Homo sapiens: one gene and its partners. The protein of the gene in region 1 purifies or fractionates together with the protein of each later gene. This does not show direct contact. Each region holds a gene or a part of one and is shown in the gene's direction. Other genes may lie near its edges. The genes, in order: WDR36, RP2, MPHOSPH10, UTP15, AATF, GNA13 and GNAQ.

The links.
Region 2: the proteins of WDR36 (region 1) and RP2 purify together in Homo sapiens (affinity purification with mass spectrometry; one large-scale study listed by BioGRID and IntAct). This does not show direct contact.
Region 3: the proteins of WDR36 (region 1) and MPHOSPH10 fractionate together in Homo sapiens (co-fractionation; one large-scale study listed by BioGRID). This does not show direct contact.
Region 4: the proteins of WDR36 (region 1) and UTP15 fractionate together in Homo sapiens (co-fractionation; one large-scale study listed by BioGRID). This does not show direct contact.
Region 5: the proteins of WDR36 (region 1) and AATF purify together in Homo sapiens (affinity purification with mass spectrometry; 2 studies listed by BioGRID, with this or other methods). This does not show direct contact.
Region 6: the proteins of WDR36 (region 1) and GNA13 purify together in Homo sapiens (affinity purification with mass spectrometry; one large-scale study listed by BioGRID and IntAct). This does not show direct contact.
Region 7: the proteins of WDR36 (region 1) and GNAQ purify together in Homo sapiens (affinity purification with western blotting, with the first as the bait; one study listed by BioGRID). This does not show direct contact.

The regions. Positions count from the first base shown.
Region 1 is NC_000005.10:111,105,848-111,109,347, forward strand, and holds part of WDR36 (WD repeat-containing protein 36), read left to right. Parts: intron 1-209; coding exon 210-296; intron 297-1,446; coding exon 1,447-1,592; intron 1,593-3,500. UniProt on the Homo sapiens protein: Part of the small subunit (SSU) processome, first precursor of the small eukaryotic ribosomal subunit.
Region 2 is NC_000023.11:46,878,543-46,882,042, forward strand, and holds part of RP2 (protein XRP2), read left to right. Parts: intron 1-1,143; coding exon 1,144-1,227; 3' UTR 1,228-3,500. UniProt on the Homo sapiens protein: Acts as a GTPase-activating protein (GAP) involved in trafficking between the Golgi and the ciliary membrane.
Region 3 is NC_000002.12:71,133,634-71,137,133, forward strand, and holds part of MPHOSPH10 (U3 small nucleolar ribonucleoprotein protein MPP10), read left to right. Parts: intron 1-314; coding exon 315-472; intron 473-992; coding exon 993-1,164; intron 1,165-3,500. UniProt on the Homo sapiens protein: Component of the 60-80S U3 small nucleolar ribonucleoprotein (U3 snoRNP). Required for the early cleavages during pre-18S ribosomal RNA processing. Part of the small subunit (SSU) processome, first precursor of the small eukaryotic ribosomal subunit.
Region 4 is NC_000005.10:73,572,243-73,575,742, forward strand, and holds part of UTP15 (U3 small nucleolar RNA-associated protein 15 homolog), read left to right. Parts: intron 1-246; coding exon 247-382; intron 383-3,500. UniProt on the Homo sapiens protein: Ribosome biogenesis factor. Involved in nucleolar processing of pre-18S ribosomal RNA. Required for optimal pre-ribosomal RNA transcription by RNA polymerase I.
Region 5 is NC_000017.11:37,014,954-37,018,453, forward strand, and holds part of AATF (protein AATF), read left to right. Parts: intron 1-3,500. UniProt on the Homo sapiens protein: Part of the small subunit (SSU) processome, first precursor of the small eukaryotic ribosomal subunit.
Region 6 is NC_000017.11:65,046,741-65,050,240, reverse strand, and holds part of GNA13 (guanine nucleotide-binding protein subunit alpha-13), read left to right. Parts: intron 1-3,500. UniProt on the Homo sapiens protein: Guanine nucleotide-binding proteins (G proteins) are involved as modulators or transducers in various transmembrane signaling systems.
Region 7 is NC_000009.12:77,794,312-77,797,811, reverse strand, and holds part of GNAQ (guanine nucleotide-binding protein G(q) subunit alpha), read left to right. Parts: intron 1-163; coding exon 164-292; intron 293-3,219; coding exon 3,220-3,349; intron 3,350-3,500.

The DNA.
Region 1 (3,500 bases):
ATAAATTTTAAGATTATTTTTAACAATATCTAAAATAACTTTTCTTAGAATTAAAAAATAACAGTGGTAATAACATCTTTGTTTTGTTTCTGACTTAAATGGGAATATCTTGTACTTTATAGTTACAAGACTGATAGCTTTTCTTTTATATACACTTTTTATTAAGAAGGATTCATAGCTATGTATGTTCCCCTTTCCCCCATCCTTAGGATTAATAAATAAAAAGAGAGTTAAACGTAAAGGACTTCAGAATACCATGTCAGTGAGACTTCCACCCATCACAAAGTTTGCAGCAGGTAAGTAACTTCAAACTGTGTTTTGAGAAGTTCTCCTTTGTCATTTATTTCCTACTGTATGCTGTTTTATTTTCTGTTTTAATAAATGCTTTTACAAATATTAATAAGCATTCAGAAGGTAACCCCAGGTGCATGCTGGTCTTGTGTGAAGACTAAAAATGAGTTATTTTAAATGTGAACTTCTTATCTATTAACATCAGGCTTTGCTCTTCTGTATAACAGGTATTAATAATATTTGATTTTATAGCCTTTTTATTCTGTCATATGCCTGGTATAATGAAAGTCACTAATGTAAAAAGAACTGGAACAGCAGAGTATGAGAACATAGAGCTCTGACTAATTAAGATCTAAGAATACTGAGGTCTTAGTATACTATGTCATTTGACCTGTGCCACTTTCAAAGAAGTGATTTTAAGAAAAATATAGATAATGGGTTTGTTGCGTGAAATCTATCATGGGAAATTACTGTAGAGGCACCATTTCTATTTGAAAGTTGTTATTATGACCACCTTTCTGTTTTCTCAGAGCTTGAGTCATGTTTCTAAAAACATTTGAATCACATCACACATCTGCTTAAAATTTTTTAGTGGCTTCTTAACACCTTTAGAGTGGAATCTCATCTCCTTAACATGACTTTCAAGACCCTTTGTAGTGTGGTCCTGATTGCCTTGCCCTACTCCTATCCCTCCCAAGAAGATACTACACTTACTTGCTGTCCTCCGTTTTGTTCATTTTTTTCTTGTGCATGTTATCCCCCCCAGGTAATTTCTACTTGTTCTACTACTCCATCCAGAGAGCCATTTACTTTCCCCAAATCTCCTGAGTGGTCTTATAAGACACTGTCATACTTTATTGTAATTTCTTCTGATTAGAATCTCTTGTTAGGTATGTTAATTAGCTTGATTTAGCCGTTCCACAATGTATACATATCACAACGTTATGTTCTATGCCATAAACACATAAATACACACATTTTTTATTTGTCAATTAAAAAATAATCTCTTGTTAGATTGGAAACATATTGCTATCAGATATTACCTGTTTGTTTTACCATTGTATCCCTAGTGTCTGAAATATTGGATGCCTAATAAGTAATAAATGAATAACAGAATGAAAAGTAATTTGATTTATGATTTTCATTACGTTTTAGAGGAAGCTCGTGAAAGTGACTGGGATGGTATCATTGCTTGCCATCAAGGTAAGCTATCTTGCTCAACCTGGAATTATCAGAAATCTACAATAGGCGCTTACTTTCTCAAGCCAAAAGAGTTGAAGAAAGATGACATAACTGCAACAGTAAGTGAGCTTGTTTATAAGAGTATCTTCTCTTTAAAACTTTCCTATGGAAATCTTGTTATACTCAAGGTTTCTCATCATAATATTGACTGAAAAAACGTAGTTTAACATTTTAAAGCATTGCATAACCCAAAGCCACAAAAATTTGCTCCTGTGACTTCTAAGAGTTTTCTAGTTTTAGCTCTTATATTTAGATTTATTCTCTCTGAATTGACTTTTGTGTATGGTATGATAAAGGGGTCCAAATTCATTTTTTTACATGTGGATATCCAGTTGTCCCAGCACTATTTGTTCAAAAGACTATTCTTTCTCCATTGAAAGATCTTGTTTCCTCTGCTGAAAGTCATTTGACCATGTATGTAAGAGTTTATTTCTGGACTCTGAATTCTCTTCCATTGATCTGTATGTCTGTTCTTATACCAGTACCACACTGTCTTGATTTTGATAGCTTTGTGGTAAGTTTTGAAATCAGGAAGTGTGACTTCTCCAGGTTTTTTGTTCTTTTTTCAAGATTGTTTTGGCTCTTCTGGTCCCTTGCATTTCCGTATGGATTTTAGAATGAGCTTATCAATTTCTGCAAAAAAAAGCAGCTATGATTTTGATAGGGATTTCATTTTGATTTTATAGATCAGTTTGAGTGTTGTCTCTGATCTATGAACATGGGGTGTTTTTCCATTTGTTTAGATCTTCCTTAATTTTTCAACAATATTCTGTAGTTGTTTGTATATAAGTCTTACACTTCTTTGGGTACATTTTTCCTAGTATTCTTTCTAATGTTACTGAAGTAGAGTTTTTTTGTTTTGTTTTGTTTTTGTTTTGTTTTGTTTTGTTTTTTTATTTTGGATTGTTCATTGAGAGTGTATCAAAATGCAGTTGATTTTTGCATTATTGATCTCATATCTTGCAACCTTGCTGAACTTATTAGTTCTAATAGTTTTTAATAGATGCCTCTGCTTTTGAAAATGCTTATTAAAAGTGTAACTCAACATTTGACCCTATTTTATACAAATTGCATTGTAAGTTTGTATATTCTATTCTCTGTAGTATGAAAATCCAGTCTTAAGCTTTTATATAATTTTCTAAACCGTAAAGATTCTATCTTACGCTCCCGTAGGGACATTTACCTACATAGTTTTGAATAATGGTTGTAATAGTAGTGGTAATTATAATCACAGGTAACATTTTCTGTGTGATTACTTTGTTCCAGGCTTTCTGTCTGGCATGGATTATTTCATATTTTCCTTACAACAGTCCTACAGCATGGTACATTGGTTAGCTGCTTTTTATGGACAGTAAAACAGGCTTTATGAGCAACATGCCTAAGATCAATGAAGCGAGTAAGGGGCAGAGCTGGGATTTGAACCTAAGACAATTCATTCTAGAATCTATATTCTTATAGCCCATAGGGATCACTTATAGAACATTTAGTATGTATGTATACTATGATATTTAGCTGGAGTTGAGTCATTTTTCTGACAGTCTCAGCTATCTGGAGCAAAGCTAGTAACCAATAAGTAATAAGCAAAAATACGTATAGAGAGCCTGTGCACTAAAGTACAATTTGTTACTCAAAGATAACATTCACGGTTTATTTATTTTTGCTTTGTTTGGCTTAGATAATACATTAGAATGAATAAATTAGAAGAAGAGAATGCCAGGAGCAGGCCGACTAAAAACAATAACTCCCCTAAAAAAATGTAAAGCAGGACAATGTAGGGCCTGTATTACTTGCAGGTTATAGCATACAAGCTCCTTTAGTTTCTTGATTGTATAACTATACAACATAGCATAAACATTTATGAATTTTTCAAAATAGGTCAGCTTAATGTTTGTGTTTCATTTAGGAAGATAAAATGCTTTTTAACCATAGTAATTTCCCATCTAAAATACTTTTTTTAAAAGAAATCT
Region 2 (3,500 bases), on another chromosome or scaffold:
TTTGGTTTTATCATCTGATTTGGCTTATGATTCCTTGAATTTACAAAAATTAAAGTACTTTGTCTTTGATCTCATTTTATCATCACAGTAGTACTAAGGGAGAGGGAAAATACCAGGTTGAATAGAAAAGGAAACTGAGAGATAAAATGGTTAGAATTTGGACTTTTAGAGCTGAATGATTTAGAGATTATCTAATCCAGCTTTCTCATTTTACAGGTGTAGTTACTGAGCCCACAGAGGTTTATTAAATTGTCAGCATCATATGCTAGTTTACGATAAAGCTAGAATAGAACCCACATCTGCTCTAATTCCTTGCTGACATTTGTAAAAGCTACTTTAGAAGGGTTCTATTGAGTATTGCTTCATTGATGTTTAGCAGATAGTTTATTTAAAAATAACAGGCTGGGTGTGGTGGCTCACACCTGTAATCCCAGCACTTTGGGAGGCTGAAGCGGGAAGACTGCTTGAGCCCAGGAGTTCAAGACCAGTCTGGGCAACATAGTGAGACTCTACAAAAAGTAAAAAAAAAAAAAAAAAAAAAAAAAAAACTAGCTAGGCATGGTGGTACACACCATTAGTACCAGCTACTTGGGGGGCTGAGGCAGGAGAATCACTTGAGTCCAGAAGTCTAGGCTGCAGTGAGCCATGATTGCACCACTGCACTCCAGCCTGGGCAACAGAGCAAGACTCTGTCTCAAAAATAAATAAAATAAAATAAAAAATAATAATATATCTTTAGCAGCTTTGAAAGGGATAATCTCAAGTTTTGCTGCTCAGACTACTGAGATTATTATTAGAAAATAGAAGAAACAAAGAGTTTTTTAAGTGACTCTTATTCAGTAGCTTCCGTAATATTGAGTGTTGTAAAAGTCCAGATGTAATAAAATACAACTCAAGTATTATGAAAGCAGAGACCTTAATTATATAAGTGCTTCCAAAAGAGCTTAATTTACATTATAGCTATTCAAAGTGTATTACATGAATTCTAAAGAAAATCTACAGATTAAATATTGTCATTATAAATGATGTACTTGAACTTCTTTTGAATAATTAGCTTGGAACTTTGTTCTGTGGAGAACATGGGCTTTGGCATTCTGAAGTACTTGGTACTGATTTTTTTTTTTAATTTTCTATTTAAAATAGATGTTTGTATCTGAAAGCAAGGAGACGGCATCTGGAGATGTAGACAGCTTCTACAACTTTGCTGATATACAGATGGGAATATGAAGTGCAATGTGGAACCAGGACTTGGTATTAAGCCTTTCCCAACTTGTGAATATAGAATTTGATAATACACTTTTGTGTATTAGCAATGGTTTTTACTAATGCTAAAACTTTTAAAGTTTATTTTTTAATAAATTGTTGAGTATTACATCATTTACTTGAGGTTCAAAAATAATTCATTTTAAATTAAGTAGTTTTAATCAGCTTAAAAGCTATTTAACCCATTTTAATAAGCTTGCAGTTTTGTTTCTCTGCATATGATATTCTTATTAGAAAACAGAAGTAGCTAAAAGTTTATTATTTTAATCCTATTTAAATGTTCTTTCAAATCTCTAATAATTTAAACTTTCCTCAGTGCTCCATGATACTTTTTTTGAGACTCCATATCATTGCTTATTTTACCTTTTTCAATTTAGAGGGATTTGTTACTAGTCGATCAATTAGAATGAACCTATGCACATTTTTATGTACACATATCCAGTTATATAATTGCTTCCTAGTTGCATTATATGGCAAATGAGATTTTGTACATGGAGTTGACATAATACTTTGTAAATTGAATTTTTTAAAGAAATAGGCATTTGATAACCAGCTTGGCAAGTAACTCTACTAACAGATGTTGGTATAGCTATTTAAAGACTACTTCGTAAGTAGTATGATTATTTGAATAAATTACACATTGTTTAGTTTTTTAATACAACTGCTATATGACTCTTCTGCTTCCTGATAAGAAAAGGTATATGCAATGCTAAAACTGTAGAAGCCCAATCACCAGCAGTTTTTAAAAAGGTGATAACTTTTATTAGCTCTTGTGGGCTATCAAGAGAATTGGAACAAAACCTTGTGACTTTTAGGTAAGAAATAGGCATGATGATAAGCTATGCAGATTATTAAAAAGCTTGATACATTTGATTTTTCATTAGATATGCCATTCATATCAAGTAATGTTCAAGTATGATAAAATTATTTTGGTTGCTTTAAAGCACTGTTTCCCAAATCTACCTGATCATAATAATTTACCAGGAAGCAGAGGAGAGCTACTTGTTTAAAAATCCACATTCTTGGACCCAATCCTCAGATGCACGGATTCAGTCTTCAGGGGAAACTCTGTTTTAAGGGGTATGTTGTAATCTAAAGTAATTGGTTCAGGAGGTGTCAATAGGTTGAACTTGTGAGAAGGCACTGAATCTGCCATCCACATCACATATAGCAGCTATTATGAAATCAGCTTTCATAGGCCTATTTTTAAAAGGAATCTGAAATTTAATTCTATTTTGATAAAACTAAGACTGAAAATAACCACTTGTAAACATTCCTATGATTGTTACTAAAATGTATTTTCATGTTTAAAATGTTTTTGGATATTTTTGGGTTAATAACTACTACATTGAATTGCATGTTAAGGTGCAGAAATAATACATTAAAAGATTTTCACTTTAAATTAATTAGTAATATTGAGCGCTCACCCTGTGCGTGGCCTTGTGCTAACCATTAGCACTGCATCATTTCAATTCTTTTATAAGGGCATTCAATACTACAAAATCAACATGATTTCATAAGGTGCAAATAAAAGTTGGTGACAGATTTAATATAATTTTGATCACAATTTACAAATGATCTTTGCAAATAGTGGTCAGACGGCATTAGTTTTTCCCTTAGTTAAGCTAAATTAAAGGGACTCCATCCTGTTATGATTATATTATTATTATTATTATTATTATTTTTGAGGTGGAGTTTCACTCTTGTTGCCCAAGCTGGAGTGCAATGGCGCGATCTCGGCTCACCACAACATCCGCCTCCTGGGTTCAAGCGATTCTCCTGCCTCAGCCTCCTGAGTAGCTGGGAATACAGGCATGCGCCACTACACCTGGCTAATTTTTGTATTTTTAGTTGAGATGGGGTTTTTCCACGTTGGTCAGGCTGGTCTCGAACTCCTGACCTCAGGTGATCCGTCCACCTCAGCCTCCCAAAGAGCTGGGATTACAGGTGTGAGCTACCGCGCCTGGCCATGATGATATTATTAAACACCATTATTCACATTTCAAATAATAACAATACTTTTTGTTTTTCAAAAATAAAATGCAATGTTATATAAAGCTATAAACTAAGTTCTTTATGATATTTGAGCAACAACTCAGGAATATAACATATAAGGGAGATGTTAATTTAAAAATTTCCACTACACTTATTATCTATTAACCAAAGCTTAAAATTTTGTATTCTTCTGTTAGATAAGACCTTTTACCCATTTAATTTGTCTTTAAGGACAGTCATTT
Region 3 (3,500 bases), on another chromosome or scaffold:
TTTCTAGGAGAGATTTAATTGTAGTTAGAAGATTTAGTGATAAGAAATATTGTGCTCTATCTTATCAGTTATAAATGAATCTGTACTTCCATTCAATTTATGTTCCAGTTGGTCTTATAATTTTGTGGTAGTGTTATTAGTTGCCATTTTCACCTAATAATTATTTAGTTATTAGTTTGGTTATTAGTTATTAGCTTGTAGTGTTATTAAGTCAGAAAGTAATATATACATACAATATACATGCAAATCTATATGCATGTGTTAATATATTTTTCTATCCCTAATTAATAGTTTTTAATATCTTTTTATTTTAGTCAGGTAAAAGTTCCAGAAATCTGAAATACAAAGATTTTTTTGATCCAGTTGAAAGTGATGAAGACATAACAAATGTTCATGATGATGAGCTGGATTCAAACAAAGAAGATGATGAAATTGCTGAAGAAGAAGCAGAAGAACTAAGTATTTCGGAAACGTGAGTATTTTGAACCATCCTTTACATTGTAAGCTGGAATTGCCCAATCATGTGTGTGTACTCGTAGTTATCAAATGTGTTTGTCTTAGCAAGTTCTATTCTCTAATATCAGATATTCTCAAGATAGCCAGAGGAAAGTCTCTGACTGTAAAGGGACATTAGAGATCACTTAATGAAGAAAAATATCTCTGGTAGTAGCAATCAAACCTTCCTTACCAGGAACTTTGATTTGGTTTTGTGTCAATAAAATCCTGTTATTTTTGTGAGATAAGAGATTTGTATTATAGATTGATGAATAATTTATTTTCTATATGTTGGACACTTTTTTTTCTGTTTCTTACATAGCGTTTTACCTAAATAATACCTTTTGTTCCTTAATAACTGAATGATTTTGGAAGTTCTGAGTATTTGGTTGCATTAGGTATATAAAATAAGAACTTTATTAAGGGAAAATTTGTTTCCTTTTGTTTTTCTAATGGAAAGTAGTATATTTCTTTTTATAAGAGTTTTGGTATTGTAGGGATGAAGATGATGACCTTCAAGAAAATGAAGACAATAAACAACATAAAGAAAGCTTGAAAAGAGTGACCTTTGCTTTACCAGATGATGCGGAAACTGAAGATACAGGTGTTTTAAATGTAAAGAAAAATTCTGATGAAGTTAAATCCTCCTTTGAAAAAAGACAGGAAAAGGTAATTAGTAATTTAAGGAATTTTTAATATACTTGATATTAACCATCCTTTGAAAACTATTAACCATCCTTTGAAAACAAATATCTTGGCCAGGTGCAGTGGCTCACGCCTGTAATCCTAACACTTTGGTAGTCCAAAGCAAGAGGATCGCTTGAGCTCAGGAGTTCAGAACCAGCCTAGGCAACATAGTGAGACCTTGTCTCTACCAAAAATACAAAAATTAGCTGGGCATGGTGATGTGTGCCTGTAGTCCAGCTACTCTGGTGTCTGAGGTGGGAGGATCACTTGAGCCTAGGAGGTTGATGCTGCGGTGAGCTAAGATTGCATCACTGCTCTCTAGCCTGGGCGGCAAGCAAGACCTTGTCTTAAAACAAAAAACCAAAAATCTTGCCATATGGAAAGCATCTGATTTGCAAAATCAGTGCCTGCATTTCAGTTTGGGGCCTGTGAGTAAAATAGTTGCTTCTGCTGGGCGTGGTGGCTCATGCCTGTAATCCCAGCACTTTTCGGGGCTGAGGCAGGTGGATCACTTCAGGTCAGGAGTTCGAGACCAGCCTGGCTAACATGGTAAAACCCCATCTCTACTAAAAAAAAAAAAAAGTAGCCAGGTGTGGTGGCGGGCACCTGTAATCCCAGCTAATCGGGAGGCTGAGGCAGGAGAATCCCTTGAACCCAGGAGGCGGAGGTTGCAGTGAGCCGAGATGGTGTCACTGGACTCCAGCCTGGGCGACAGAGTGTGACTCTGTCTCAAAAATAAAAAAATTTTTAAAGATAATTGTTTTTTTCTCTGTCCCTAATATCTTTATATGTATAGCATGTCTCTCCTGATAAAGCTGTCCTGTGAGCATCTTAACTGTTTCCACTGTTTTGGAGGATACCACATATGTCTTTTCTTTTTCTTTTTCTTTTTTTTTTTTTTTTTGAGACAGAGTTTCACTCTTGTCACCCAGGCTGGAGTGCAGTGGCGTGATCTTAGCTCACTGCAACCTCCACCTCCCAGGTTCAATCAATTTTCCTGCCTCAGCCTCCTGAGTAGTTGGGATTACAGATGCCCGCCACCACGCCCAACTAATTTTTTTGTATTTTTAGTAGAGACGGGGTTTCACCATGTTGGCCAGGCTGGTCTGAAGCTCCTGACCTCAGGTGATCCACCCACCTTGGCCTCCCAAAGTGCTGGGATTACAGGCGTGAGCCACTGCGCCCAGCGGATACCACCTATGTCTTTAAGGTGCTCCACAGATTTTTGTGAGTGCCAAATAGCCAGAATTTTAATTTATACCATCACAAACATATCTTTCAAAGTTGGTAAAAATTGTTTCTTTGTGTCATGATTTCAGACAAGTGAAATTTCATTAAATTTTTGTAGATGTAGTCTGGCTCTAATAATTTGGCTCTATCATTTATTTACCTTAAAATTTTTATCACAATAAAAATGAGAATAGGGCCAGGCACAGTGGCTCACACCTGCACTTTGGGAGGCTGAGGAGGGAGGATTGTTTGGAGCCCAGGAATTCGAGACCAACCTGGGCAACAGGGCAAAAGCCCGTCTCCACTAAAGATTAAAAAAGTTAGCTGGGAATGGTAGTGTGTGCCTATAGTCTTTGCTACTCGAGAGGCTGATGGGGGAGGATCTCTTGAGTCCAGGAGTTCAAGGCTGCAGTGAGCTATGATTGCACCACAGCACTCTAGCCTGGGCAACAGAGCTAGAGACTGTCTGAAAAAATTAAAAAAAAAAAGAGAACAGGCAGAGAATGAAAGATACCAAGAATATCAAAAGAATTGTTTTTAAAATCTAAGAATCTGAATTAAATCCATGGTTGTCAGATTGTCCCCAGAAGATAGAGAAATTCTAAGGGAAAAAAAGCACCATTATAAAATATCAATGAGTTAGTATCCTTCCACCCCACTCCTCCCGCCCTTCCCCAACAAATAAAGAAAGAAAGGTTTGGTTTTATTGTGAAATTATATCAGACCTTCAAGTTAAGTTTCAATAAATCAAAAATAATTTATTTCAATTTCCACATATAAAGAATAAAGTAGAACTTTCAACCTTTTTTTTTTTTTTTTTGAAACTGTTAGGTCATGAAAACCCAAACCTGACAGAGGTAGCATTAAAACACACACACACACACACACACACACACACACACACACACACACACAGAGCACAGTCTCATTCATGAACAGTGATGCAAAAATCCTACAGCACAGTGGAAAAATGATGCCACACAACTGCATGAACCTTATTCTCTTGAATCAGTATTAGAAAATCTAGTATGATTCCTGACTGCAAGACATTAAGGAGAAAAAACATATAGTCACCTCCATATATGTCA
Region 4 (3,500 bases), about 38 Mb from region 1:
TTTTGCTGGAATTTATGTACACTTCACAAATATTATTTAATGGTCATAACAGTTCTGTGAGGTAGGAACTGTTATTACCAATGACCCAGGAAGTGGTGCATCCAGGATTTTACCAGGCAGCCTGGCCTGGACTCCCTCACTCAGCCTCCATGCTTTGTGGAGTGTCCAGAGAAGAATGCTTTTCAGATCTTTAATATGTTGAATCTGTGGGCAGAATATCCAACTAACGATGATTTCTTTTTATAGGAGGTCGTTATGTTAAAGTCTGGGACATGTTAAAAGGAGGACAATTGCTAGTATCTTTGAAAAATCATCACAAAACCGTGACATGTTTATGTCTAAGCAGCTCTGGACAGAGGTTACTCTCTGGCTCACTGGATAGGTTGGCATTTTAATTTTTTTGTATATTATTATTAGTGTACACCTGTTTACTGCTTGAGGAAATGAGTTATTTCAGCAATATTTGTGATAAGTATACAGATAATGATTTCCAGGAGAAAAAAACCTGTTGAGTTGAAAATAGTTTTGACCTTTTGTTTACATATAGCTACTTCTTTTCTTTTCTTTTTTTTTGAGACAGAGTCTCACTCTGTCACCTAGGCTGGAGTGCAGTGGTGCAATCTCGGCTCGCTGCAACCTCCGCCTCCCAGGTTCAAGTGGTTCTCCTGCCTCAGCCTCCTGAGTAGCTGGGATAACAGGCACGCGCCACAATGCCCGGCTAAGTTTTTTATTTTTAGTAGAGACGGAGTTTCACCATGTTGGTCAGGCAGGTCTTGAACTCCTGACCTCGTGATCCGCCCACCTCAGCCTCCCAAAGTGCTGGGATTACAGGCGTGAGCCACCACACCCGGCCACCCATAGCTACTTATTTTCTCCTTTGACACAATTTGTTTTAACTTGTATACTTAAACAACATTATTGAACCATTTGAATGATAATCTTTCAAATAATGTTATTCTATAAACCATCTTTTAAAATCATTATTGTACATTCATATATTTTGAAGTTTTTTTTTTTTTTTTTGAGACAGAGTCTTGTTCTGTTGCCCAGGCTGGTGTGCAGTGGCACAATCTGGGCTTACTGCAACCTCTGTCTCCCAGGTTCAAGCGATTCTCGTGACCCAGCCTCCCAAGTAGCTGGGATTACAGGTGTGCAGCACCATGCCTGGCTAATTTTTGTATTTTTAGTAGAGACGGGGTTTCGCCATATTGCCCAGACTGGTCTCGAACTTCTGGCCTCGTGTGGTCTGCCCACCACGCCCTCCCAAAGTGCTGGGATTACAGGTGTGAGCCACTGTGCCTGGCCTGAAAAGTTTTTTAAAAATTAGATAAATTAATTTTTTTTTTTTTTTTGAGATGACATCTCGCTCTGTTGCCCAGGCTGGAGTGCAGTGGTGGGATCTCAGCTCACTGCAACCTCTGCTTCCCGGGTTCAAGCGATTCTGCCTCAGCTTCCTGAGTGGCTGGGATTATAGGCGCTTGCCACCTTGCCCGGCTAATTTTTGTATTTTTAGTAGAGACAGAGTTTCGCCGTGATGGCCAGGCTGGTCTGGAACTTCTGACTTCAGGTGATCCACTCACCTTGGCCTCCCAAAGTGCTGGGATTACAGGCATGAGCCACCACGCCTGACCTAAAAGTTAGATAGCACATTTTATTTAGCCTAATATCTAATGTAAAAATAAAATATATATTACATATAAAATATAATTTCAGTATGTAATCTATGTCAAAATTATTAAGATACTAGAAATAAATTAAGCATCTAAACATGTGCACTATGATACAATAATCATATTTTAGGTTGGTACAGTGGCTTACACCTGTAATCCCAGTGCTTTGGGAGGCTGAGGTGGGAGGATCACTTGAGGCCAGGAGTTTGAGACCAGCCTAGGGAATATAGTGAGACCCCATCTCTACAAAAAATTAAAAAAATTAGCTGGCCACAGTGGTACACACCTTTAATCATAGCTACTAGGGAGGCTGAGGCAGGAGAAGCACTTAAGCCGGAGTTTGAGGTTGCAGTGAGCTGTGATAGTACCACTGTACTCTATCCTGGGTTACAGTGATACCCTGTCTCTAAAAAAAAAAAGATAATATTTTATAAAAATTACTGTCTCAGTTTTTAAATTAAAATTAGATAAAATAAAAAATTTAGTTTCTCATTTTCACTAGCCACATTTCAAGTGGTCAGTAGCCATGTGCAGCTAGAAGTATGGCACAGTTCTAGAATTTACATGATTTATTATTAATTTTTTTTTTTTTTGAGACAGGGTTTTGCTCTGTCGCCCAGGCTGGAGGGCAGTGGCATGATCTTGGCTGACTGCAACCTCCACCTCCTGGCTTCGAGCGATCCCCTCGCCTCAGCTTCCTCAGTAGCTGGGACCACCGGCACGCGCCACTGTACCTGACTCATTTTTGTATTTTTGTTGAGATGGGGTTTTGCCATGTTGCCGAGGCTGGTCTCAAACTCCTGAGTTCAACAGATCCTCCCACCTCAGCCTCCCAAAGTGCTGGATTACTGGCGTGAGCCACCGTGCCCGGCTTACATGATCTATTTTTTATTATTTTATTTCCATATTTTCATTTTTTTCTGCTCTTATGAAAAACTTTAGTTTTCAGCATGTTAATTAAAAAGTATACAGTCATCTCTTGGTAACTGAGGAGAATTGGTTGTGGATGCCCAAGTCCCTTATTTAAAATGGCATATTTGCATATAACCTACACACATCCACTGTATACTTTAAATCATGGCTTGCTTATTTGTAATACCTAATACAATGCAAATGCTATGTAAATAGTTGTTACACTGTATTTTAAAATTCTGTATTGTTTATATATTTATGGATATTTTCAATCCATGGTTGGTTGAATCTGCAGATGTGGAACCTGCCATAAGAAGGATTGACTGTACATATTTTAAAAGCTAGAAAATATTTTTAATACAAAGGAATTTTTTATGTAAATACATGGCAAGTTTACACATGTTACTGAAATCATGTTACTCGGCAATTTGGGACTTGATTCTTAGGTATGTTCCTAAAAGCTAAGTGTAAATTGGCTCTATTTGTGGTGGTTTCAACCAAGAGTGATTTTTGTTCCTCAAGGAACGTTTGACAATATCTTGAGAAAGTATTGTTTTTTATCACAACTCATGGTACTTACCATATAGGGGATAGAGGCCAGGAAGGCTGCTAAACATCCTACAATGCACAGAACAACCCCCACAAAAAAGAATTCTGTGCCCCAAAATGACAGTAATTCTGAGGTTGAGAATCCCTGATCTTTGGCTTCATGTGTACTTTCTTTCTTTCTTTTTTTTTTTTTAATTTATTTTTTTAGAGACAGGGTTTCTTCAAGTTGCCCAGGCTGGTCTTGAACTCCTGGGCTCAAACAATCTGCTGTCCTTGGCCTCCCAGAGTGCTGGGATTACAGGTGTGAGCCATCACACTTGGCTTTGTGATGTGCTTTCATTGATAATTTTTTCTTTTTTTTTTTTTAAG
Region 5 (3,500 bases), on another chromosome or scaffold:
TTATCAAAGTATACCCTCTCCCACTCTTGGGATATTCATTGTAAGTTTTGGGGGTTTTTTTCTCCTTTTTAATTATTTATTTTGTTCTCTGCATTGCTTCCTTGAGTCTCTTTTCTATTTGTTTGGTTTGTGCATGAGGATTTCCTCAGATGCAGGCGATCCTTAACTGTCTGTTCATATTTAAGAGTAAAGCATTAAAGTTTATTATTCGGAATCTCTGAAACCTGGGCAGAGCTTTTTGGCTTCTTTAAATATAATTATGCTGTGAACTGACCTCTTTGTTAGAGTAGCCTTGGATGTCAGAATTTGTATTTGTTTGCTTTGTTTTCTATATATCTATTTGTTTGTGCTGCTATAGTAAAATACCACAGACTAGGTAATCTTAAAAGAACAGAAATTTATTTCTCACAGTTCTGGAGGTTGTAAAGTCCAAGAACAAGAAGGTGGCAGTTTCTGTTGTCTGGAGAGGGCTGCTGTCTGCTTCCAAGATGGTGCCTTGATGCTGAATTCTTCTGAGGGAATTCACATGGCAGAAGGTGGAAAGGCAAAAGGGACAGACTCCCTCCATCATGCCCTTTTAGAGGGACGCCTAATCCCATCCACGAGGGCAGAGCCTGCATGACTCAGTCACCTCCCAAAGGCCATTCCTTCCAATACTGTTGCATTGGGGATTAAGTGTTCAACATACGGATTTTGGGAGACACATGCAGAAGACCATAGCAACTTTGAAATCTAATTTTGGGGGTGGGAGGGCAGACACCATTCAGTTTCTTCCAGAAAAGGCTCCTCTGCTTTCCTGCCTAGGAAATTATAGAATGGGATGTTAGCTTTCTACAAATGAGGTGGGAGAAAGGGAGAGGTTTCAGAGATTAACATAGAGCCTTTCCCTTGTACCTCATTCCAGCCTTCTTTGCCTGGTATCCTCTATTCTGGAGCTTCTGTGGTTCAATATTTCCAAAGAATAAAATTTCTTTTCTCTCACGAGAGGAGGTGGGTGGTAGAGGTGGTTAGTCACTTGGCTGTGTGGGATAATGGAGGAGGCCCAAGTGGTTCTGCTCCTTCTCTTTTTCCCACCTTGCGTGGTAACTGCCAGAGAGCTGATCCTCACAGGAATTCTGCGGCCTAATACAATTAGCTTCATCTTCACCTTTATTCACTCTGGGCATTTGGGTGATAACTTCTCCATCTCCTTACTGTCTTGGAAAAATTTATGAAAATATGCACACATTAGTGCTCCTTTTCTCTTTTTTCTTAGGAGTTAATATTTATTTTATTCCTCAACTGTCTCTTAGAGGGGTTGAGAAGAGATAAACTAATGTGTTCAATCTGCCATTTTTAACTGTTTCTAGCATGCATTTTTTCTAATGAAAGTATTATAAATGTTGATTAGATGCTTAATAGTACTATTAGTCCTGTTCCTCATGTATATTGGTATGGGTTAAATAGGTTTCTGTGGCCAACCTGAAAACCTAACTGTATCTATGATTTTCCCTTAGAACTAGAGGTATAATCAAGCCTTTCCGAATTGATTATCTGGAGGAATTTTAACAGACTAGAGCAAAAACATTTTCTCTCTCTCCATTTTCCAAATCACATAGAAAATTACTACAAATACTATATCATCATTGTTGAAATAAAAAGCTCTAATAATTGTAACAGAAACTTGAATTTTAGTAGAAAGGTTTATTTGTAAAGTTAAAGCTATACAAATTAAAATCAGAAGTAAAATTGAATTCTTCAGCCAATATCTCAAATCTCTTTTTTTTTTTTTAGCAACTGTTTTGAAAGCAATTTTCTAATTAAATTTAAACCCAGTGATAGTGGTAGCTTTGGGAAAATAGTAATAGCCACGGGAATCATTTGTTTAACTGTATTTTTTGTTGTTGTTGCTTTCTTTTTCTTACCATGGACACAACAGAATCTTCTGAAATATTGGACTGAATAAACTAGACCTAGCTAGATAGACCAATAAAACAATCTTCCAAGTCATGAATGAGTAAAAATAGTTATGCAAAGCACTTGTGTGCGAAAATGCAGCTCAGAATATGTATAGTACACAAAGTGTTTGAAAGTAAATGCTGCACCAACTTGGTGTTGGAATTGCAGAGACCACTGCAGTGGGGAGCTCCAATTTCCAGCCTTTGGCAAGGGCATATTCTTCCCGAGGATCACCCTGTTGTGCTGGGGCAGCCTTCCATGAGCACTTGCACCCCGGTGACCCTGATTGCCCAGTCTCAAGGGATCTGAGAAAATTAGGAAAACCAGGAACGGTTGTTGTAATCTTTTGTATGGCTGGAACGAGGTAAGGGCAATGAAATGCAGTTATTCCATTATTTTCCTTCCTTTTTATTTTTCTTTCTCTTTTATTTCTTCTTCTTTATTATTATTAACCACTCCCCCTCACTCCCCCTACTCCTTGCTTTTGACAGAATATTGACTAGGAACCAGAAGCCCATTTCTGCTTAGCCTTAAGGGCAGCTGTTTACACAGCAGCAGTGTTACATAGGTTTACTGTGTCATATGTCTGTGTAACACTGGATTTGGATCTTGTATTTAGCTGCCAGAAGTGACTGTGATGAAGTAGGAGAGATAAACTGATAGATTGGCTGCCAGAAAGATGTTGGGAATCAATCAGATAAACAGGGTAGAGAAATAGCTTGCTGTTTTCTAGTGATAATAAAACCAGCGGCTTCTGGTCCCTGCATTCTTAAACATAATTGCTGTAGTAATAATGTCCAAAATAAGCAAATGAAAAAACATCATGGGAGGTTTTCTAATTGCAATTGAGATATCCTTTTCCCTTTTGCAATAAAGATTCATCTTTTGGAAGTGAATATTTTTTATAAATTTGTTTTACTTCTTCCAGTGCCTACTTACATAAACATATGAAATTAGAAAGAGATCTGCTTTCAGAGGAATTTATTTCTCTTTCTTCATTTGAACCACTGAAGCCCACAGGCTTCAGCTATTTGATTTGATGAAATATCTCTATTGCCACCATGCCTCACCTACAAAATCATTGCTAATTTTTATGAAGAAACAAGTTTTAAGGCCAAACCTGGATTATTGACAGATGATTAGCAGAACTAGTTTATCTTAGCGTCTTCTCTTAAATTTCTCTCAGAAGATTTTTGGAATTTTAATCTCTGTTTCTCTTTCTCTGCATATAGCACTTATAGTTCTATTATCGTAATTCAGGGTTTTTCTCCCTTAGTGTTTAACTTTTAAAACCATTGCTTCTCTTCGCCCAAGGACTTTAAGATTCAGTGCAGATTCTTAAGTCTGTATGAAAGGTACAGATGTAGATTTCAACTGGGTGCAGAGGAGTCAGGCTTAAAATGACAGTAGGAGAGTCATTTAGAATAACTCCCATGGAGTTAATTGTATTGGATGAGAGACTAATCCTCTGTGGTATATTTGCAGTATGCAAATGACTTTCTTTAGATTCCCTCTTAAAATTTGTGTGGCTATGAATGTGTTGGTATCATGTGTGGCTAAAG
Region 6 (3,500 bases), on another chromosome or scaffold:
CCTCTGTAACGTCTCTTGCATTCATTCCCTCCTTTCCTCTATTTTGTGTTCTGCTACCTCTTGCTTGGACTCCAAGGCAGTCTTGTTCAAACACAGCATTGGTTTGCTCAGAAAGCTTTGGTGGCTCACCATTGTCTTCAGAACAGAGCTCAGCTTTTTTGTGGGAGTAAAGACTCTAGCTAGCTTACCTGTGATTCCAGCAATATATTTCATTAGGCCACTGGACATACTCTGTAATCTCTTGATTCCCACATACCCTAATTTTTTGCTTCTATAGCTCTCATCATGCGTAGTCCCTCTGCCAGAATTATTCTTTACCCTATCTGTTACTAGGTCTTACCCTTCACTTAATGTAGTGATAATCACACTAAATGTGGCCCATGGACCCCATGGACTGGAATGCTTGTTAAAACAAACAAGCAGATGCTCAGACTTTATACCTGAGGATCTGATTCTGGATTCTGGGATGGGACCCAGTGATCTGTGTTTTCAGCAAATAGCCATAGGTGGTTTGGATGAATTTGCTCCATGCCCCCTCCCTTTCCCCAGGAACAGTGCCTTAGGGGCTGTGTCTCTTTATTTGAAGCATCTCCAGTCTTCTTGGCTAGAATGGAGATCTCCGTGTCCTTTGCTTTCCCTAGCATGCTTACTCCTGTCACTCCTCACAGTACCCATTATGTGTGTTAGAGTCACAGCTTTCATGTGTGGCTGTCAGTCATGTAGAAGTCCTTTGGTATGCCTAGTTTGTCTTTTTCTCTCCTACTAGCATAGTGCCTGACACTTTTATTTCCTCGTTTTTCAGACATTCTTAATTACAAAGATGTTCTAAAAAAATAAAATACCTGTAATCCCAGCTCTTTGGGAGGCTGAGGCAGGCAGATCACTTGAGGTCAGGAGTTGGAAACCAGCCTGGCTGACATGGTGAAACCCCATCTCTACCAAAAACCAAAACCAAAACCAAAAATTAGCCAGGCATGGTGACATGTACCTGTAGTCCTGGCTACTCAGGAGACTGAGGCACGAGAATCGCTTGAACTCAGGAGGTGGAGGTTGCAGTGAGTGGAGATCATGCCACTGCACTCCAGCTTGAACGTCAGAGTGAGACCCTGTCTCAAAAAAATAAAAATTAAAAAATATGTAATATAATTTAATTCTACATTAAGTTCCTTCTGGGAAATATGGATTATTTCTATAATAGTTTCCTAATTTTCTAGGAAGTGGACAGTTCTTGTGTAATTATAATTTTTATTTGGGGGGGTTGAAATGTGTTTTGTTATGTTTAGCAGCATATTTTTGAATTTTGGATAGGAAAGGTAAACATCAGAAGAAATAGAGGTTAGCAGATAAAATAACTAAAATTAAAATTAACCTTTTCGTTTCAACTAATGATTTGATTATTAAACTTATTAATGCACATTAAAAACTGACAGGTTTTAAGGCCCTACATGACTTAACATTTTGCCTAAGATGAACAACTGCCCTTTAATCAATTTTCGGGACAAGGGATAGGGTGTTGATAACACAGCTTAGGTTTTTAGCAGACTACTCATTTGTTAGTAATAACTTTGGGTGTAAACATGAATGTTTTTCTTTCTAAGTTCCCAAAGGTAAACATTTCCTTTTTTGGTTAGTTCCATCATGGGTCAGCTAAATAGCTTACTGTGGAAAAGAAAAATACAAGATTCACATTCTCGTTATAACTTAAGGTACCTTTCTAGTTATTATAAATTAGCATACTGAGGATAATAGATTGTAAGAAGTGGCCTGTTTTAGTACTGAATTAAATATTTGAAATACTCTACTCTGGCTGTACATTCAACATAGCCTGCCACTGCACTTTTGAGTTACCCTGTCTTTAGAAAACCTTCTTATGTGACAATAGCTAGATAATTTGGTAACTCAGATGAATAAAGAGATGGGAGTCAGGGGTTGGCTGGATGATACAATTGGAGATATGGATGAAAACTGACAAAATGGCTAGGAGTCATTTCCAACTATTTTTTTTTGTTTAATTTATATTCACTTATTGAGAAATAAGGCAACACTTGTTACGTAGGACAGGACAGTGTGTGTGACAGTGGGAGGAACATCCCACAGCTTCCTACTTTCTGTAAACAGTTTAACATTGTCAGCATTAATACAACTTCCTGTAATGGCCAGTCTGTCTTTGCAATTCCTGAAACCAAAGTGTTTTTGCTAATCATGGTACCTTCAGTTAGACTTAATTCTTTTCTTTTTGTGCTTGAGGTTACTCTTCTTGAAGCCGATAAGATAGTGTATTCATTAACACAGAGATTTACTCCCTCAATCTGTGTAACAAAGTAACCATTTAGCTCCATGATTGGCCTGTAAAAAGGGGAGGTCCAACTAAGTATTCTAGAAACTTCAGTTTCAGCTAATTTTTTTTATTTATTTATTTGCACTGCAGCATGTATTGGAAATATAATACAATCAAGAGTCATTTGAAGCTCCTGTAGTCCCAGCTTCTGGGGAGACAGGAGGATTGCTTGACCTCAAGAGTTCAAGTCCAATGTGGGCAACATAGTGAGGACAGCCCCCTCCCTCTTAAAAAAAAAAAAGAATCAGAGTCATTTATTAATTAATGCTAATTTGGATTTGCTTTAAATATTAAAGAATTGCTACTTTCAGTTGTAAAATACTATGTTTCTTTTGGATGATTGGTCCATTTTCTCTATAAGTATAGTCAAGCAAGGACTTTGAGTTGCTAAAAACCTATTGGTTATCTTTTGATTCTAGGATTAGTGTTAAATATTTCATCCCATCTAAAATAAAGATTATATATAACATTAGAGATAGTAGAGGTTTTTATCTTACTTTATTAATATTTTTTAGAGACAGAGTCTCACTCTGTTACACAGGCTGGAGTGCAGTGGTGTGATCATAGTTCACTGTAACCTTGGGACTCCTGGGCTCAAGTGATCCTCCTGCTTCAGCCTCCTAAAGTGCTGGGATTACAGTAGTGAGCCACCTCACCCAGCCAGAGATAGTAGAGATTTTAAAGTTGAGTTTAATTTCCTTTTGATGAAATTGATCAGATGTCAGAGTGGTTACATTTTATCCAAATCTTGTAAACCCAGAGCTTTATGTTTATTTACGTTAAAAATGAAGTTTTTTTCTTTTTAATTAATTTCTTTTTTAAAATTTCCGTCAGTTCCTTTAAGTTTACACTTATAGTTTTAATACAACTTTGTGAAGTGTGTGTGCATGCACACATAGGTGGTATCACTTGTATTCTATTATGTTGAAATTTTCATGTTCGCATTTTTTTGGGTGAAAACTTGACTGGCTGTAGGATGTCTGGGTTCTTGGTGCTAAAGCTTCCGGAATTGGAAAATACTGTGCTGCTTTCTATATTACCTTTTATTGCTAAACAAAGCTAGGGGCACAATAATTTATGATTCTCTGAAAATGTTTATTAAACAACTAAGAGATGGAACAAGTAAATAGTTTTGTTATGAAAAGTAGACTTTAGTTTCAGA
Region 7 (3,500 bases), on another chromosome or scaffold:
GTTGACTTTATCTTTCTTTTCCACAGACTCCTCTACCACTTTCTGATATTTTTCTTTCTCTTCTTTACTTCTCTGTTAGGACTCATTTTTGTCCTTCCCTTTCCGTAGACAGCTTTGGTGTGATGGTGTCACTGACATTCTCATTGTGTCTTCCCTCCTCTAGCTATCTTAATGACTTGGACCGCGTAGCTGACCCTGCCTACCTGCCTACGCAACAAGATGTGCTTAGAGTTCGAGTCCCCACCACAGGGATCATCGAATACCCCTTTGACTTACAAAGTGTCATTTTCAGGTAGTAACTGAGTCCATGAAACCTATTTCCCAGCTTTTATGCCTTGAGTACATTTGGTAAACTCTATAAATACTGGAATCATGTGTAGGCTTCAAAACAAGATAGGCTTTATACCAATTATTATCATTAGTTATACAAATAAAATGACATATCCCTGAGGGAGGAAATAACAGAAAGATGTACTGGAGGCCGGGCGCGGTGGCTCACGCCTGTTATCCCAGCACTTTGGGAGGATAAGGTGGATGGATTACCTGAAGTCAGGAGTTTGAGAACAGCCAGGCCAACATGGTGAAACCCCTTCTTTACTAAAAATACAAAAATTAGCCGGGCATGCTGGCGGGCACCTGTAATCCCAGCTGCTTGGGAGGCTGAGGTGAGAGAATCACTTGAACCCAGGAGGCGAAGGTTGCAATGAGACGAGATTGCGCCACTGCACTCCAGCCTGGGTTACGAAGCGAGACTCCATCTCAAAAAAAAACAAAAGAGAGAGATGTACTTGTACTAGAACATTTGGCATTTCAATTTAAATCACTAAGAAATCAATAAAATCTTAGTTTTGCTTGTGGTTGAGTAAAATCGGTTAGTAAACCATTGGTCTTAACTGTAATTTTTTGGGCAATCATTTTAACTGTAAGGACAATGGATATGTTTTTAGAATTATGTAAGCTATGAATGATCATATGATGCTGTCAATCACAGAAATTAAGTAGTGTCAGAAGTTTTCATGCTGGTGTTTTCCCCACGTCCTCTGGTACCAATGCAAAATTTTTCAGTAGCAAGAAAAATATGTGATGTTTTGTATTCATAAAATATGTTGCTTGAAAAATTTTGAAATACATGATTTTGAAAATGGGTTAATTAACCTAGTCTGTATTTACCTAGCAAAATAGAATGAAAATTTATTACCTCATCTCTCACTGCTGGTGTTCTGTCTGGATAATACTTCAGCAGAAGCATTCTGTTGTTTTGTTTTTAGGATGAGAAAAAATAAACAATACTGATGTACTTTCATTCAATCTCTTATTATGCAATCACTCAGTTGTACTTTTAGTTAGAATACAAACTACATGGTGCTTTGAGAAATGAGAATGTGTCTTGGAGTGTGGAGAGTTGATTTTCTAGGAGCGCCCACCCCATTGAAGATGGATGTGTGCAATATTGGTTATGAAGCAGAAGTTATTATCTCCTGTGTCACTCTGCCAAGTGATTCTGATTAGCAGGCCCACCTTCATTCCTTGCCGTGACACTGTGTTTTCTTCTAATCGGCCTCTGTACCTGAGGTCAAATCTGGCTGCCATACATTGTTCTAATAGATATTGCCACAAAGTAGGTGGCATTTTGAAACTATTTCTGAGCCTCAGTTTTTTAATCTATAAAATGGTTGTATTGCATTAGATGATCCTCAGGGTTCCTTGTAGCTCCAGCATTCTATATTACTTACGTTTTAAGTCTATGGTATTTAGAAATCTTTAATTTGAGACACCCAGATTTCCTTCCTCCATGTTACAAAATATTTTTAGAAAACATAGCATTTCATGGGGATTTTCATCTCCTTATTGCTTCGCAATTAGTGGATTCTGAAACCAGATTACAATTACATGTTGTTTTTTCCACGTTTTGTACACTGGCTTTTGAAGTACATTTTTTGCCACTACAGTAAAAGTAATGACTTAGAAGTATAATTTTCCACCACCATCAGAAGCATCTTTTACGGCCCAGTGTGACAGAGTTTCATGGAATGAGGATTTCACGTAAATTAGTAGCGTATTATTCACACCTTGGCATTAGGGAAGAGCCAGCATTTTAATACTTCCGAAGATCTAAGAATTCTGGCTTTGATGTCCATAGTACGTGGATCTCCCTGAATGCATTGTTTTGCCCCTTAGATCTCTCTCCTGTGCCTTACTAGGCTTACGAGTAGTGACTTAGAAGATCTTAGTTCTTGTTTAGGTTTAATGTCAGGAGGCAGGAAAACACCAGGAGCAACTGCAATTTTAAACAAATGTTTAAAGAGCCCTACTTTCAAATTTTTGTACCTAAACCGCTCATTCTCTGAGACTATTTTTTTCCTGTGAACATTGTATACATTTCATTCAAGATACGGATTCAACAATTTGGAGAAACTTTGACTCAGTGCCAAGCATTGCTAGATATTTTCAGACATACATTGTCACTCAAATTAATTGATGTCAGTGTTGGTTTCTGAGCAGTAATTCAGCACAGAATTGATGTGTTAAAAACAAATGATTGAAATGGTTCACATGATGGCCTCCGTCTTGTACCTTGTAGTATCTTCATTCACTCACACTTTATTTCAAGTAAGTGACCTGACATGACTGGACCTGTGCCAAATTCTTATCAATATTGGGAAGAAAAAAATGCCCAACATGCCGACCCTGCTGATAAAGGATGAGTGGGGTCGTATCTGCATTTAGTGGAAGCATCATACCACCCATATTGAATTGTATAGCATCTCACATATTTTAAGTATACTTGTAGTCATATCTAGCATCCATAAGAAATACATGAGGATCTTTTTTCCGATTTTATAGGAAAAGAAACTGAAGTTCAGTATTTGCCAGTAGGGCTTAACACAAAACTCATTCAGTTTTGGACTCTTCAGCGCTTCATTAAATAAAATACCATTTTGCTTGGCACAGATAAGGATGTTTTTTACAGTGTTACAGTTTTCGTACACACTGGTAACTTTCTTAAAACCATCATGATGTGTTACCCAGAATGTTTTAACTTTGAATATTAGGTAATAAGAAATTAGTAATTATTCAATAAGTATTAATTGAATTGACTTGGATGATCATCGTCATTCAAGAGAATATTTTCCCTAAGTTTGTAAGTAGTGCTATATTTATGTTGACTTTTTAGTTTTACTTTATATGTTATTAATATGAGTATTGTTAACCTTGCAGAATGGTCGATGTAGGGGGCCAAAGGTCAGAGAGAAGAAAATGGATACACTGCTTTGAAAATGTCACCTCTATCATGTTTCTAGTAGCGCTTAGTGAATATGATCAAGTTCTCGTGGAGTCAGACAATGAGGTAAGTGTTCTTTAGACAGGCAATGGATTATCATTTTATTATCTGATACAAGTAAATGATAGAAAGTAGGGTGTGGGGAATGGAGTGAACTTACTTCTTTGCTTTCTTGAAATTTGATTTTAGGACTTTTAAAATAACCAAAAATAATCCT